Linked DNA regions of Homo sapiens: region 2 is linked to region 1. Evidence: fine-mapped expression QTL. Tissue or cell type: whole blood. Region 1 holds a variant in brackets; the other region holds the start of a gene. All regions are shown on one strand. Distances are from middle to middle.

The links. PIP is the estimated chance that this variant, and not a neighbour inherited with it, causes the effect.
Region 2: SBNO2 starts here. The variant in region 1 is fine-mapped to the expression of SBNO2 in whole blood (TOPMed, PIP above 0.99).

The regions. Positions count from the first base shown.
Region 1 is chr19:1,139,347-1,147,524 of GRCh38, reverse strand. SBNO2 (strawberry notch homolog 2) reads left to right here. Exons shown (of 32, transcript NM_014963.3): 4 at 105-216. Among named protein-coding and RNA genes, the nearest start is that of SBNO2, 31 kb to the left of the region's middle. The variant A/G (reference allele first, on the strand shown) is at 3,672.
Region 2 is chr19:1,171,173-1,179,320 of GRCh38, reverse strand. It overlaps SBNO2 (strawberry notch homolog 2), which reads left to right and starts at 5,053. Exons shown (of 32, transcript NM_014963.3): 1 at 5,053-5,149. It overlaps LOC102725180 (collagen alpha-1(VII) chain), which reads right to left. Exons shown (of 3, transcript XR_005647046.2): 2 at 5,437-6,302; 3 at 4,328-4,761. RefSeq lists enhancers at 738-1,937, 4,693-4,742, 6,127-6,685 and a silencer at 4,883-5,192.

The sequences.
Region 1 (8,178 bases):
GGGCCTCGAGGGGCCTCTGGCTGCGGCCATGGGGGTGCAGGTGTGTTACTGAGGGAGTGGGTTGAGCACCCCATCTCACCTCCCCCCCCCCCATCTCCCTCCAGCCCGTTCATGAGCTCCGCCTCCTTCCTCGGCAGCCAGCCCTGCCCAGACACCAGCTATGCCCCCGTGGCCACCGCCTCCAGCTTGCCACCAAAGACCTGCGACTTTGCTCAGGTAGGAGCCCCAGGAGCTCACCGCGCCGTGGGGGGCAGGGTGGAGTCTGGGCCGCCCCTCCAGCTGCCCTGCGACCTCTCTCGCTCAGGCCTGCCTGGGACTCAGTGACCTCGGCTTGGCCCCTCGGCCGCAGGGTTTACGGTGGGGCAGTAGGAGCCCAGAGATGTGGCTTGGTTTTGGGGAAGAGCCAGTGACTGGCCCTTCGTGTCAGCAGTGAGCCCCGCCCAGCCCTTGGGGTCCCTGCGAGCATCTGGGCAATGCCACAGAGGGAGTTGCGGGGAGGGCGGTGCTGGGAGAGATGCCCTTGGCAGCCTTTGCCCCCACGGCCCTCCCTCTAGGCGGGTCCAGACACCCTGCACATTGGAGTCCCAACCCCTTAGCAGCCACCTGAAAACGGAACTCACATACCAAAGGAACAGAACTTTCCACCTCCTTCTCCCCAGGGTCGCGGGGAGGCTCCCAGCCTCCCACTGCGGCATCAGGCGGACCCCACCCCCACCCTCCCAGCCTCCCCCTTCGGCATCAGGCGGACCCCACCCCCACCCTCACAGCCTCCCACTGCGGCATCAGGCGGACCCCACCCCCACCCTCACAGCCTTCCCCAAGGGGTTCCCAGTGCCCCAGCTTCCTCTCGGCAGCTCTGGAGCACCCAGTGCCACAGAGATCGGCTTCCCTGGGACGGTTCGGATACCACAGCCTCCGTGTGGGACCCGGGGCCAGGGGCTGCTGCTGGGCCGGACCACATCCAGGGCCTGCCGGGGAGCGAGGGTCACCTGGTGCTCAGCTCCCCCAAGCCTCCGCTTCCCCTGTGTAATGGGCATGTGAGATCTGCCTGGGCCTCAGAGCTGTTGGGGGGATGGGCGCAAGCCGGCCAGATCCAGAGAGAAGCGGTCAGGTGTGGCTGCAGCAGAATGGAGCCAATTCAGGTCCCAGGGCTCACCCAGACCCAGGCCCTGCAAACAGCTCGCCGGGTGGACCCCGGGCCCAGTTTTCCCCACTCAGGGCCGTAGCAGAGCGGGGCAAAGCCAGCCGGACCCTGAGTCTGTGCTGGGGTGACCGCGTCCGTCAAGTCCGCCTCCCCAGTAGAGTCTGTGAGGGGACCTTCCTGGAAAGTAGGGTCTTTTTGGATGTCATTGGGTAGGGATCAAGATGAGATGAGGTAGCTCTGAAATCCAGCACAAGGGTCCTCAGAAGAGACAGGAGAGATTGGGAGCTGGCGCCACGCTGGAGGCCGGGGCTGGGGCGGTGTGGCCACAGGTCAGTTTCTCCTGGAGCCCCAGGGCTGGAAGAGGTGGGTCAGAGCTGTGGGAGGGAGCAAGGCCCTGAGACACCTTGGCCTCAGACTCCCGGGCCCTGGGACGGGAAGAGGGTGGATTCCTGTCCTGTAGCCCCCAGTGTGTGGCCTGGAAATTGGCCTACCAGCTGTGTTCAGGGGAGGGGGGCGCCCCTGCTCATCTTGGGGCTGAGGTCAGCGAGGTGCGCACAGGGGCTCTGTCCTCACCCGCAGTAGCCCTGGACCCCCATGTGATCTGGTCCTGGCCAAGGTGTGGCAAGCTGCTGCGCCATGCCAGCCGGACACAGAAGGAAACTGAGGCAGGGGAGGCGCCTGTCCAGAGCTGGCATCTGTGCCCCACCCTTCAGGGGACGCACAGGGGAGGAGCCCGGGGTGCGACTGATGGCAGTGGCTCCTTCCTCACCGCCACTGCCTTCCTACCAGCCCCAGCCCTGGGTCAGCCTGTCCTTGCCCCGCCCCCTTCTTCTCTTTCACCCCTTCTCTGCCTCTTTCTGTGTGTTCCTTCTCTCTTTCCTTTCTTTCTTTCTTTTTTTTTTTTTTTGAGACAGAGTTTTGCTCTTGTTGCTCAGGCTGGAGTGCAATGGCACGATCTTGGCTCACTGCAACCTCCGCTTCCCAGGTTCAAGCGATTTTCCTGCCTCAGCCTCCCGAGCAGCTGAGACCACAGGCATGCACCACCATGCCTGGCTAATTTTTTTTTTTTTTTTTTTGGTAGAGACAGGGTTTCTCCATGTTGGTCAGGCTGGTCTCAAACTCCTGACCTGTGGTGATCCGCCCGCCTCAGCCTCCCAAAGTGCTGGGATTACAGGCGTGAGCCACCGTGCCCGGCCTGTCTCTTTCTTTTCTCTGTCTCTCTCTCTCCCTCTTCCCCCTGCTCCTAGTCTCTCTCTCTGTCTCCCTCCCTCTCAATCTCTCTCTGCCTATCTCCCTCTCTGTCTCTGCCTCCCTCTCTGCCTCTGTCTTCCTCTCTGCCTCTGTCTCTCTCTCTGCCTCTGTCTCTGTCTCCCTCTATGCTCCATCTCTCTGTCTCCCTCTCAGTCTCTGTCTCTGTCTCCCTCTTTGTCTCTGTCTCCCTCTCTGTCTCTGTCTCTCTGTCTCTGTCTCCATCTCCGCCTCTGTCTCTCTGTCTCCCTCTCTGTCTCTGTCTGTGTCTCCCTCTCTGCTTGTCTCTGCCCCTGTCTCTCTGTCTCCCTCTCTGTCTCTGTCTCTCTGTCTCCCTCTCTGTCTCTGTCTCTTTGTCTCTGCCTCTGTCTCTCTGTCTCCCTCTCCACCTGTCTCTTTGTCTCCCTCTCTGCCTCTGTGTCTGTTTCCCTCTCTGTCTCTGTCGCCCTCTCTGTCTTCGTCTGTTTCCCTCTCTGCCTCTGTCTCTGTCGCCCTCTCTGTCTTCGTCTGTTTCCCTCTCTGCCTCTGTCTCTATGTCTCTATGTCTCTGCGTCTCTGTCTCCCTGTCTCTGTCTCTCTCCATGTCTCTGTCTCTGTCTCCGTCTCCATCTCTGTCTCATGAATTCTCCTGCTCCTCCCCTCCTGAACAATTGCTGCTGCATCTGTTCAGCCCGGAGCCCTCGGGGCCACTGTGCTGGTTCTGTGAGCACCGCCCGCCCGGCTCCCTGCCCACCCTGCCTACAGCCGCCTCATGCTCCAGCGTCCGTATGTGGGGCAGCTTGGACCCAAATCTCCCTGTTAAAGCAGCAGAACTTCATTTGGAGGAAGTCTGACCCCGGTGCCAAGTGTGGGCCGGGCCGCGTGGTCCCCCAGTGCTGAGTGTGGGATGGGACGGGTGTGGGTCAGCTCAGTCCTGTGGGCTGGGCCGCAAGGTTCTGTGGTGTCGAGTGTGGGACGGGATGCGTGGTCCCGCGGTGCCAAGTGTGGGACGGGACGGGTATGAGTCAGCCCAGGCCTGTGGGCTGGGCCGCGTGGTTCTGCGGAGCCAGGAAGGAGCCCAGACCTGAGCCTGGTGTTCGAGGCCCTTTGCGCCGTGCCCCCCAGCGCAGCCCAGCCAGCCACGGAAGCCTCTGCTCCCGACTCAGACCTGAGGAAATGTGCTGGCCACACGGTTACAGCCTCCAAGACGTCCCCGTCCTGATCCCCAGGACCTGCCGCCGTGTCGCCTCTCATGGCAGACGGGACCTGCAGATGGGACTGAGTGATGGACCCAAGACGG[A/G]AGAGCTTCCTGGGTGACCTGGAGGCCCAGTGTCCTCACAGGGACCTGCAGATGGGACTGAGTGATGGACCCGAGACGGGAGAGCTTCCTGGGTGACCTGGAGACCCAGTGTCCTCACAGGGCCCTCATGAGAGGAGGCGGGAGGGTGAGAGCCAGAGAGAGACGGGAAGAGCCTGCGCTCTGGCCGTGAAGGGGGAAGAAGGGGCCCCAAGCCAAGGGATGCGGGTGCCTCTGGACACTGGAAAGGCAGGAACTGGGTTTTCCCCTGGAGCCCCCGGGAGGGACCTGCCCTGCCCACCCTTGATGTTACAAGTTCTGCCCTCCAGACTGTGAGAGGATAAGTGTGTGTTTCATTTATATATTTTTTTAATTTTTATTTTTAGAGACAGGGTCTGGCTCTGTTGTTCAGCCTGGAGTGCAGCGGTGCAATCTCGGCTCACTGCAGCCTCCACCTCCTGGGCTCAAGCTCCCACCTCAGCTTCCCCAGTAGCTGGGACCATAAGGACACACCACCACACCCAGATAATTTTTTATGTTTTGTAGAAATGAGGTCTCACTGTGTTGCCTAGGCTGGTCTCAAACTTCTGGGCTCAAGCGATTCTCCTGCCTGAGCCTACCAAAGCATGGGGATTACAGGCGTGAGCCACCATATTCAGCTTGTTGGAGCCATGAGGTTGACAGTAGCTTTTCACGGGAGCGAGGGGAAACGGAGGCACCGTTCAAAGCCATCGTGTGACCTGTGGCATGTGTGCATTCCCTGCAAATGTTTCCTGCTGTTGTATAAACCTGGAGGGATTGGTAGGGAGAACCTGTTCCTGGGCTGGGAGTGAGGGTGAATGTAAAACCCCACAGGCCATAACGAGACAGCTAGTCATGACTTTTTTTTCTGGAGACCGACTCTTACTCTTGCCCAGGCTGGAGTGTAGTGGCGCCATCTTGGGTAACTGCAACCTCTGCCTGGCGGGTTCAAGCGATTCTCCTGCCTCAGCCTACCAAGTAGCTGGGACTACAGGCACCCACCACCACGCCCGGCTAATTTTTATATTTTTAGTAGAGATGGGATTTCGCCATGTTGGCCAGGATGGTCTCGAACTCCTGACCTCAGGTGATCTGCCCGTCTCCCAAAGTGCTGGGATTACAGGCATGAGCCACCGCACCTGGCCTATTGTTTTTTGAGACGGAGTCTCGCTCTGTCACCCAGGCTGGAGTGCAGTGGTGCAATCTCGGCTCACTGCAACCTCTGCCTCCCAAGTGTGAGCCATTCTTCTGCCTCAGCCTCCCGAGTAGCTGGGATTATAGGTGTGCGCCACCACGCCTGGCTAATTTTTGTATTTTTAGTAGAGACGGGGTTTCACCATATTGGCCAGGCTGGTCTCGAACTCCTGACCTCAGGCGATCCGCCTGGTAACTATTGATACACCTGAGCCCTGAGTTTCTTGGCAGCCAGAGCAATAGGAGAAAGCAGATGAGCCGTGGACCCGGGCAGTGCCTGGGGCCAGTGGACTCCGCAGCACTGTTGGTTCTGCTGGAGAGCCTTCACGGCCTGGGGAGGGAGGCCACTGAGGGGCAGATTGATTGTGGGGAGGGAGGTCATTGAGGGGAGGGTTGATCGTGAGGGAGGTCATTGAGGGAGGGTTGATCATGAGGGAGGTCATTGAGTGAGGGTTGATCATGGGGAGGGAGGTCATTGAGTGAGGATTGATCGTGGGGAGGGAGGTCATTGAGGGAGGGTTGATCATGAGGGAGGTCACTGAGTGAGGGTTGATCATGAGGAGGGAGGCCATTGAGGGGAGGGTTGATCGTGAGGGAGGTCATTGAGGGGAGGGTTGATCATGGCTCACCTGGTGGTCTTCACTTCACAGACTCCGAGTAGGGCCACTGTGCCTGGGAGATTCTGCCCCTGGGAATGCAGGAGGTCATGTTTGAGTCAGGACTGGGCACGGTGGCTCACGCCTGTGATCCCAGCACTTTGGGAGGCCAAGGCGGGAGGATTGTTTGAGCCCAGGGGTTTGAGACCAGCCTGCGCAACATAGTGAGACCCTATCTGTATAAAAAATAGAAAAAATTAGTCGGGCATGGTGGTGCAAGCCTGTAGTCCCAGTATTTGGGTCCCATCTATTTGACTGAGGCATGAGGATCGCTTGAGTCTGGGAGTTCCCAGTGGGAGGCCCATTGTGTTTGTCCGTGTGTCCGTGATGGATGCGTGGAGGGCCCCACTGTGTTTGTCCGTGATGGACGCGTGGAGGGGCCCACTGTGTTTGTCCATGAAGGACACGTGGATCCAGCCTGGGCAACATAATGAGACCTCATCTCTATACAAAATTAAAAATTAGATTTACAGGTCAGGCGCAGTGCTCAAGCTTGTAACCCCAGCACTTTGGGGGGCCAAGGCGGGCAGATCACCTGAGCTTAGGAGTTTGAGACCATCCTGGCCAACGTGGCGAAACCCCGTCTCTACTACAAATACAAAAATTAGCTGAGCATGGTGGCGGGCACCTGTAATCCCAGCTACTCAGGAGGCTGAGGCAGGAGAATCACTTGAACTCGGGAAGCAGAGGTTGCAGGGAGCCGAGATTGCGCCACTGCATTCGAGCCTGGGTGACAGAGCAAGACTCTGTCTAAAAAAAAAAAAATTACAAAAAAATTGCAAAAACTAAGAGCTTGTTGGACCGGGGGAGTCAGCAGCCTCTGCGCTTGCCCCCGAAGAGGCAGTTCTCCAGGGTGCCTCTTCTCCGGGGCGCGTGTTCTCCGGGGCGCGTCTTCTCCGGAGTGCCTCTTCTCCGGGGCGCCTCTTCTCCGGGGTGCGTCTTCTCCGGGGTGCGTCTTCTCCAGGGTGTGTCTTCTCCAGGGTGTGTCTTCTCCAGAGTGCCTCTCCGTTGGTTTTGTCTGGGGTTGTCTCCTGACTGGATGGAGGAATCCCTCAGACGGCACCATGTACAGTGCGGCGTGGACCGGAGTGCCTGGCGTTGCGCGTGTTGTGCTGATGCTGGTAACTTTGGCCGCTTGGCGGGGACGGGGTTCCTTCACCATCCATTTCCTGTTTCTCTCAGCCTGGGGGAAGACCCAAGGCTGAGCAGAGGCTGGTCCTGCCCAAGGCGGGGTCAGCAGCCTCTGCCCGTGGGAGCTGCCTGCGGGCATCCCTGCTGCGTCCGTCTGTTTTCCGTGTGCCTTCTCCTGCTGACGGCTGGGTCTGTGTGGGACCCCCACCCCTTCCCCGCTCTCTGCCTGCTCCCTGGCCACCCCCACCCCCACCCCTGGGGCTCACGCTGCGCCAGGATGCCGCTGCTGGCATCCACCGTGGGCTGCGGGGCTCCCGCGGTGTCACGTGTGTGCCTTGCCCGGCCCTCCAGCCACCCTGGCCCGGAGGAAGGGCCCCCCTCACTTCTGCTCAGCCTTCCGTCTCCAGGTTGGCGCGAAGCCATCAGGCTCAATGTCCCTGGTGGGTGATGGCTCAGCCCCGTGTGTCCTGGTGGGGCCCCCTGCCGCGGTGTGCAGGTGAACCGTGGTTCTGTGGACACGTGGCTCTGTGTTGCTGCTGCTTTTTTTTTTTTTTTGAGATGAAATCTCGCTCTGTCGCCCAGGCTGGAGTGCAGTGGCGTGACCTCGGCTCACTGCAACCAACGCCTCCTGGGTTCATGCCATTCTCCCGCCTCAGCCTCCCGAGTAGCTGGGACTACAGGTGCCCACCACCACGCCCAGCTAATTTTTTGTGTTTTTTAGTGGACACGGGGTTTCACCGTGTTAGCCAGGCTGGTCTCAATCTCCTGACCTTGTGATCCACCCACCTCAGCCTCCCAAAGCATTGGGATTACAGGCGTGAGCCACCGCGCCCGGCCTGCATTTCTTCTTTATTTTCTTTCTTTCTTTTCTGTCTCTGTTTTTCTCTAGTTTTTTGTTTTGTTTTGAGATGGAGTTTTGCTTTTGGTGTCTAAGCTGGAGTGCAATGGTGTGATCTATCTCGGCTCATGGCAAACTCTGCCTCCCAGGTTCAAGCGATTCTCCTGTCTCAGCCTCCTGAGTAGCTGGGATTACAGACGCGCACCATATTTATTTATTTTTGAGACAAAGTCTCACTCTGTCTCCCAGGCTGGAGTGCAATGGCACGATCTCAGCTCACTGCAGCCTCTGCTTGCCTGGTTCAAGTGATTCTCCTGCCTCAGCCTCCCGAGTAGCTGGGATTACAGGTGTGCGCCACCGCGCCCAGCTGATTTTTGTATTTTTAGTAGAGACGGGGTTTCACCACGTTGGCCAGGGTGGTCTCAAACTCGTGATCTCAGGTGATCCATCCGCCTCGGCCTCCCAAAGTGTCGGGATTACAGGTGCGAGCCACCACGCCCCGCCCCTTTTCTGTCACGTGAGACTCAATTCACGTGACAGAAAAGTCCCCATTTCTAAGTGAACGATGCTGTGGCTGTTACAAAGTCCAGAGCTGTTCAGCCATCACCATGTAATTCTAATTCCAGATCATTGTCCCCCTAGAGGAGGCCCTGTCCCCGTCAGCTGTCAC
Region 2 (8,148 bases), 32 kb before region 1:
TTAACTGGGTGTCTTGTGTTTGATCTGGCAACCCCACTTCCACAATTCTCTCGAAGGGGCTGGGAAGACATTTAGGAGGACCTGTATGGGATGGGGAAGAGGGAGGGTTTAGGGAGGAGAGTGTTGACGTCAAACACAGCCCCACCAGAAAACCTCCACAAATGTACAACTCTGTCCCCCAGGAGAGCTCTCCACCCTTCACATGGCACCGAGGACCTGGGCCTGGGCCAGAGCTGGAAGCCTGAGAGCTCTCTGCGGGGTGGGACTACTGGGGGACGGGGCTATCCACACCTCTGACCAGTTGAGCGTCTCCCCTGGGGGGCGGCTTCCAAAGTCTGAGCCAGGAGAGCTGGTGCCGGCCAGGGCCCTCACCCCATCTCTGCCCATCTGTGGCGTCAAAAATGCCTCCTCTCTTGAACTCCAACTGCAGCATTCATCCTTATTATTTTCTCATTGAACATCCACTTCAGTGACGCCATGGACTGGGCCGAGGAAAATCAAGAATTTCCCTAGGGTGGCTCAAGCCTGGAATCCCAGCAATATGGGAGGCCAAGGCAGGCGGATCACGAGGTCAAGAGCTCGAGACCATCCTGGTCAACATGGTGAAACCCTGCCTCTACTGAAAATACAAAAATTAGCCGGGCATGGTGGCACGTGCCTGTAATCCCAGCTACTTGGGAGGCTGAGGCAAGATAATCACTTGGACCCAAGAGGCAGGGGTTGCACTAAGTTGAGCTCATGCCCCTGCACTCCAGCCTGGGTGAAAGGGCCAGACTTCGTCTCAAAAAAAAAAAAAAAAAGAATTTCATTTGGAAATATTCGTAGTGGTTAAATTCTATTAGGCACTGTCTGTCCATTGAGTTGTCTGAACAACCTAGCAGCTAGTTGCTATTATTATTATTATCATTATTATTATTTTTTTTGAGACAGAGTCTTGCTCTGTTGCCCAGGCTGGAGTGCAGTGGTGCGATCTCAGCTCATTGCAACCTCCGCCTCCCGGGTTCAAGCGATTCTCCTGCCTCAGCCTCCGGAGTGGTTGGGACCACAGGTACGTACCATCATGTCCGGCTTATTTTTGTATTTTTAGTAGAGACAGGGTTTCACCATGTTATCCAGGATGGTCTCAATCTCTTGACCTCGTGATCTTCCCGTCTCAGCCTCCCAAAGTGCTGGGATTACAGGTATAAGCCACCGTGCCCGGCCACTAGTTGCTATTATTATCACCCTCCCCATTTTATAGGTGGGAAAACCGGGGCACAGAGAGGTTAAGTAACTCTCCTTGGGTCACACAGCAGATTCACAGCACTGTACTCCAGGCTGGGCCATGAGCCCCAGTACTGTGTCCCTGCTGCTTTCCGGAGCCACCCCCTGTGATTCCCTGGAAATCCCCGCATCTGACTAATTCCCTAAGCATCCCCCAACTTGGCAGATTCCTGCCTGCTGAGATGGCTGGACCCACCCCGGCCTGGGCAAACTGCCCCCACTTTAGGCAAAATCACCCATCGAGACCTTGTGGTTTCCCGAGGTGGATGTGGCAGAGATCGAGCCCACGCCTCTTCCTAGCTCACTTGGTGACCTCAGGGCAGCTTCTGAACAGTTCGTGCCTCAGTTTCCTCCCTCGTGAAATGCAGGTAATACCAGTCGCTACCCCAGAGGGCCGCTGTGGGAGCAGGGCCGGCGTCGTGGGTGTGTGTGACTCGGGGCTTCGCCCACCGCCTGCACTCAGAAGGTCCCGGCGCTCAGCGTGATGCTTTGCTGTTGCCTAACCCAAGCTATGAAATATGTTTTGTGCCGGGGCACCGTGTTTTCATTTCCACTGATCCTCAAAAGTTGTGTGGATGGTCCAGTGTGGGAGGAAATGAGCAGATGCAGCCGCCACCCTCCAGTCCCCAGGCTGGCTTCCTCACCCTTCCAAATCTTTAGTGCCTATTGCTCAATTTAACTGCTGTTCAATTTGCTGTGAAAAGAGTCTCAGCCAGGCACGGTGGCTCATGCCTGTAATCCCAGCACTTTGGGAGGCCGAGGCAGGCAGATCACCTGAGGTCAGGAGTTTGAGACCAGCCTGACCAACATGGAGAAACCCTATTTCTACGGAAAATACAAAATTAGCTGGGCATGGTGGCACATGCCTGTAATCCCAGCTACTTGGCAGGCTGAGGCAGGATAACCACTTGAACAGGGGAGGAGGAGGTTGCAGTGGGCCAAGATTGCGCCAATGCACTCCAGCCTGGGCAACAGGAGTGAAACTCCATCTCAAAAAAAAGAGAAAATAGTCTCAAAGTTGAGATGAGCACCCAGTTTGCCAAAACCGGGAGGCAGAGGTCATGCCATTGCACTCCGGCCTGGGAGACACAGCAAGACTCCATCTCAAAAAAAAGGAGATTTGGCCGGGTGCGTTGGCTCACGCCCGTAATCCCAGCACTTTGGGTGGCCGAGGCGGGCGGATCACGAGGTCAGGAGATCGAGACCATCCTGGCTAACACGGTGAAACCCCGTCTCTACTAAAAATACAAAAAATTAGCCGGGGTGGTGGCGGGCGCCTGCAGTCCCAGCTACTCAGGAGGCTGAGGCAGGAGAATGGCATGAACCTGGGAGGTGGAGCTTGCAGTGAGCTGAGATTGCGCCACTGCACTCCAGCCTGGGCGACAGAGCCAGACTCCGTCCCAAAAAAAAAAAAAAAAAAAAGAGATTCAGTGTGGAGGGAAGTATCTCTGTCGGGTCCGGCTGCTCTGCGGGACTCTGAGGAAAAGCTCACAACAGGTGGACGCCGTTCTGTCACCATGGGTAAAGGAGACCCCCAATGAGCTGAAGGACAAAATGTCCTTGTGCGCCTTCTGCATCTCACTCTGGACATATCACTTCTGCCTTCTGGGTCTGAGTTTCCCCATCTGCCCCCTTGTGCTTTTGGGTTTGATGACAGGGGTCCTTGGCCTGAAATTTTTTTTTTTTTTTTTTTTTTAGACGGGGTCTTGTCATGTCACCCAGGCTGGAGTGCAATGGCGCGATCTCAGCTCACTGCAACCTCCGCCTCCCAGATTCAAGTGATTCTCCTGCCTCAGCCTCCTGAGTAGTCAGGATTACAGGCACCCACTACCACGCCTGGCTAATTTTTGTATTTTTAGTAGAGACAGGGTTTCACCATGTTCGTCAGGCTGGTGTTGAACTTCTGACCTAGGTGATTCACCCACCTCAGCCTCCCAAAGTGTTGGGATTACAGGCGTGAGCCACCGTTTTTTGTTTGTTTGTTTTTTTGAGACCGAACCTCACTCTATCGCCCAGGCTGGAGTGCAGTGGTGTGATCTCAGCTCACTGCAACCTCTACCTCCTGGGTTCAAGCGATTCTCCTGCCTCAGCCTCCCTAGTAGCTGGGAATACAGGCAGGCACCACCATGCCCAGCTAACTTTTTTGTACTTTTAGTAGAGATGGGGTTTCACCATGTTGGCCAGGCTGGTCTCAAACCGCTGACCTCAGGTGTTCCTCCTGCCTCAGACTCCCGTAGTGCTGGGATTACAGGCGTGAGCCACCGTGCCTGGCTTTTGGCCTCAGTTTTTTAGAGAGGTGCTAAAATATCTTAAACCTGCTTATTATCTGCCTTACCAGGCCTTCTTTGCCCGGACTGTTCTTCCTACTCTTGTCTACCTGGTACACTCCTACTTGAACTTCAAAACCCCAGCTTCAACACACTCTTCAGCATGCAGCCCTCTATGAAGCCCTAGGCAGACATTTCAACCCTCCCAGAGATCCCGCATATTGGAGTGTCTGGTCCTGGTTCTCTCTCCCCTAGACCAGGGGCTTTCTGATGTTGGGACAGACAGCTGAGTCCTCTGTGAGACCCTGGGTTTTCCCAGCTCATGACCAAGCACAGAGCAGCATCGATTAGAAGTCACTGAATGAATTAACAAAGTCATGGAGAAATCAACTCTAGTTTCAGGGGGTTGGAATGGGGGCAGAGGCCTCTGGCTTGTGGCTGCTTGGGTCCAGGGAGCTGTATCAGTATTGTCATGGCTGAAATTGGGCTGGGGAGGCGGTGGTGCCTCCCACACTGGATCTGCCTTCACTGGCTCAAGTCACAGGAAAAGTGCCCTGAGACTCCAGCTCCCCACGCAGGGCAGCCTCCCACCACAGCCACCGAGAGGAGGAGCCCCTCAGGCCCCCGTGGCCCTGCCTGAAAGGATCCTGCTCTCTTGGGGGTAGCCCCTGGGACTTACCCAAACCCCCATGTGCCAGTCACCATGCTGAAGCGTCCAGAACTGTATTTGGTTAGGGAGAGAGATTAATGAACAGAGATAACTTTTCGTGAGAGAGTATGTCTGACAGGCCCAGAGGTGATGATTTTATTTCATTTTATTTTATTTCGTTATTTATTTATTTATTTTTGAGATGGAGTCTCACTCTGTTGCCCGGGCTGGAGTGCAGTGGTGCGATCTCAGCTCACTGCAATAACTACCTCCCAGGTTCAAGCGATACTACTGCCTCAGCCTCCTGAGTAGCTGGGATTACAGGTGCCCGCCATCACGCCCAGCTAATTTTTGTATATTTAGTAGAGACGGGGTTTCATCATATTGTCCAGGTTGGCCTCAAACTCCCGACCTCAAGTGATCCATCCGCCTCAGCCTCTCAAAGTGCTGCGATTACAGGCGTGAGCCACTGCGCCCGGCTGGTGATCGTCTTAGTAGCTTTTGAGGGAGTCTCAGTTTAAAAGTCTCGGGTGAGTGAGCCCCAGTGGGGGACGTGGCACATGCAGAGGCTTGGAGGGGGTTCTGAGGAAGGAGGAAAAAAGGGGATGCTGTACCACAAAGCAGATTCCATTTCACCAGCACGGTGCAGAAGAGGAAACTGAGGCTTGAGGAGGTGAAAGCACATGCTGGGGTCTCAAGAGAACCAGGCAGGGCGGGATTCGAACCCAGAGCCGTAGGAGTCCCAGCCCCTTCCGAATAGCGGAAGGACCTCAAGGGATTGGCTTGGAAGGTGGCCCCGCCCCCGAACCGAGACCACGCCCCCGCAGGTGGAGGCCCCGCCCCGCGGCATGACCGGAAGTGCGCGGGGCCCCCAAGATGGCGCCCGAAACCCGGAAGTGAGCGGCGGCAGCTGCGAGGCTCGGAGAAACAGGCGCCGCGGGCTCCGCGCCCGGCCGGACCCGGGCCCGAGGTGAGGCTCTGGTTGCGACCCCCGCCCCGGCTCCACCGCGACCCCTGCCTGGCCCGACCCCGCTTGTGGGTCCGGCGCTCCCCGCGGACCCCTGCGCCCGGGGCTGGGGGTTCTGGGGGCCGTGGGGCGGGGGCGAGCGCGGCGGGACCCCCGCCCTCCGCCGCGACCCCTTCCGACCCCGCCCTTCGCCGCCAACGTTGACCCCGCGCTGCCCCGCGACCACCGCCGTGAACCTTGACCTGCCCCCCCGCCCCCCGGCGACCCCCTGCCGTGAACCTTAACCCTACCTTCCACGACAACCCTCCCAACCTTTCCTTCCCGCTCTTCCGGGTGACTCCCTGTACCGCGCAGCTTGGTGACCCCCGACCTTTCGTTTTCTGGTAACCCTTGACCCCGCACTCATCGGTGCCCCCGAGCCCCTTGGTGACCCCGCACCCGCTTTTCCTCGGTATCCTGGCCTTCCCTTTTGGGGACTCTCGACTCCATGCGCCTCGTGACCTCGACCCCTTCCTGGGAGTGACCCCCGGTCTCTCCCGCCGCCCCGATTCCTGACTCCAGGCTCCTCGGGCGTTCGTGCCCCTTCCTCCTCCTTGTCCCCGGTCCCAGGACCCTTGCCTTCTCGGCCCCGCAGCGCAGCCCTGTCTCCCTCCCTCCCCTTGCTCCCCGCCCCTCCCGCTCCTGGGGCCTCCGACTTCTCTTCTGGGGCAGATGGTTTTTCGGTTTCTGCATGGAGGTCCCCCGGTTTGGGATGGGGGCTTGCTGATATTAGGTGACCCCGGGGCCGTCTGGGCGGAGTCTGCAGAGCGTGTTGGGGGTGGGAGTGCGGGTCGCATTCAAACCCGGCTTCCAGGGACAGGCGGGAGGGAGGGTAGCGGGCTGAGATGGCCCGAGTGGGGCCCGGGAGCAGCGTGTGTCGGTGAAGGGGAAGCGCAGGCCTCCTGGTGGGTCCTGTCCCCCGTAGGGCACTCTTCCCACCACCCCAGAGTCCCGAAGAATAAGGCAGGTGGGGCCTGGAGGGACCAATCCCCAGACTGACCTGGGGCGTGGGGGGCAGGCGTTGTGGAGAGCCCACCCAGCGCCTCCAGGGACGCCGGGCACGGATGGTGCTGGGGCAGGGACGGTGGGTGTCTCCCTGGATGAACTGATTAACATTCTGAAAAGTTAAAAAAAAAAAAAAAAAATCTCTTAAATGTGTAGCCGGGGCCTCCCCTGGCTGCTTCTTCCCGGAATGCCTGTTGTTCCCGCCTGCTCAGAACGTCCTTCCTGCCTGTGACTGCTGGGACGGGACGGGATAGGTTTGGTGCCATCTGTTGCACGCCCTGTCAGCGAGAGTGCCCGGCCTCGGAGCTGGCCTGTGCTGATGCTGGCTGCCAGTTTGCCGGGGCGGGGGGGGCGGTTGCAGTGAGTGTTTTACAGAGGGGCAGAGGAAGCCGAGGTTCAAGAGAAGAGCATGGGAGGGGCCGAGGACCCAGGGCCGCAGACCCCGTGGGCAGCCAGCCCGATTACACGGGGATTACAGGCTTCAAACTTTCTTCCAGGCCTCTTCCTCCGGGCCAGGGCAGCCGGCACTGCTTCCTGACTGAGGGGTGCTGTGCTGTTTCGGGTGCCCTCCCTGGGATGTCTCTCCCTGACTCGGCCCTGGAAGAGGAGCAGCGGGGACATGGGACCCAGAGAGTTTGTGGCAGGCCCAGCAGGTGCCGTCCACGCCCTTTCTTCCCAGACATCCTCTGGCCTTCAGGGATCTGGCTGCCCGGCCCCAGATTTTCCCAGGGGTGACCCTGGTCGTGGGGTGATGGCTTCTCACAGTGGCCTGCTCCGGGCCACCTTCAGAGTTCTTGCCGAGAAAGGGCGAATTTGAGATCTGGACCCCTTGGTGGGTGGGATGGAGAACAGCAGGATGGGGGCCTCAGGGCCTCCCACGGCAGGGGAGACGGCAGAGGAGACGCAGGCAGGCTCTCGTCCTTGGAGAGGGAAGGACTTGGAAGGCGCCTGCCAGCCCCTGGAGTGTGATTTCAGAGCACAGGGAGGAGGCTTTTGTTTAACTCTGAGGATCCCGGCAGACATCTGCCCACACCTGCCAGGAGCCAGGAGGGCCCTGGTGTGGAGGGGGCTGTGCAGGCAGGGGCTGGACTTCAGGGGGAGGGAGCCTGTCAGAGCACAGAAGAGGCAGCAGGAGCTTCCCTCATCCATTCACTCTCAGTTTGCTTTGGGGTCTGGCCTCTCCGTTCATCCATTCACTCTTGGTTGGCTTTGGAGTCTGGGCTAGACAGGAGGCACCCAGGTGTGCAGGTGCGGAGGAGAGGGTGCATGTTCTCCAGCCGCGTGACCATGGGCAGTCACTGCCCTCTCACCTGGCGGGGAAACCGAGGTGGAGAGAGGTTGCGCCAGCCACCCCTAGACCCCCCACCCACTTGCTGCCTAAGGCCTCCCCCAACCCCAGGGGTGTGAGGGGTGTGACCAGCTTGGGCTTGGCCCAACCCGGCTCCAGCGGAGTCACGGATGCCCCTCCGGCAGGGCCCATGCGGAAACGCCAACACCGCCAGAGTGAGCTCTGCCCCGAACAAAGAGGCGACTGTGTCGACAGAACCAGTCCGGCTCCCAGAGGCCCCCTCCCAGGGGGCCCCCATGCTGGGGGGTGGGATCAGCTCTGGGAAGGGGGCGGTATCATGTAATCCACAGCTGTAAACACTCCTGGAGGCGGTGTGGAGGCAGCCCCCCATGACGCCAGCGCTGCCCTGGGGACTCTGCATGTGTGTGTACACGTGTCTTTGTGTATCTGTATGTTGCGCCATGTGCATGCACATGTGTGTTGTGTGCCTGTGTGTTGTATGGATGTGTGTATTCTTTGTGTGCATTGTACGTACGCACGTGCATTCTGTGTGTGCGTCGTACGGACGTGTGCGCGTTCTGTGTGTGTGTTGTACGGATGTGGGTGCGTTGTGTGTGTGTGAATGTGCGTGCCTGTGGCTGTGTGCTCCTGTGCATGTGTGTGTTGCTCG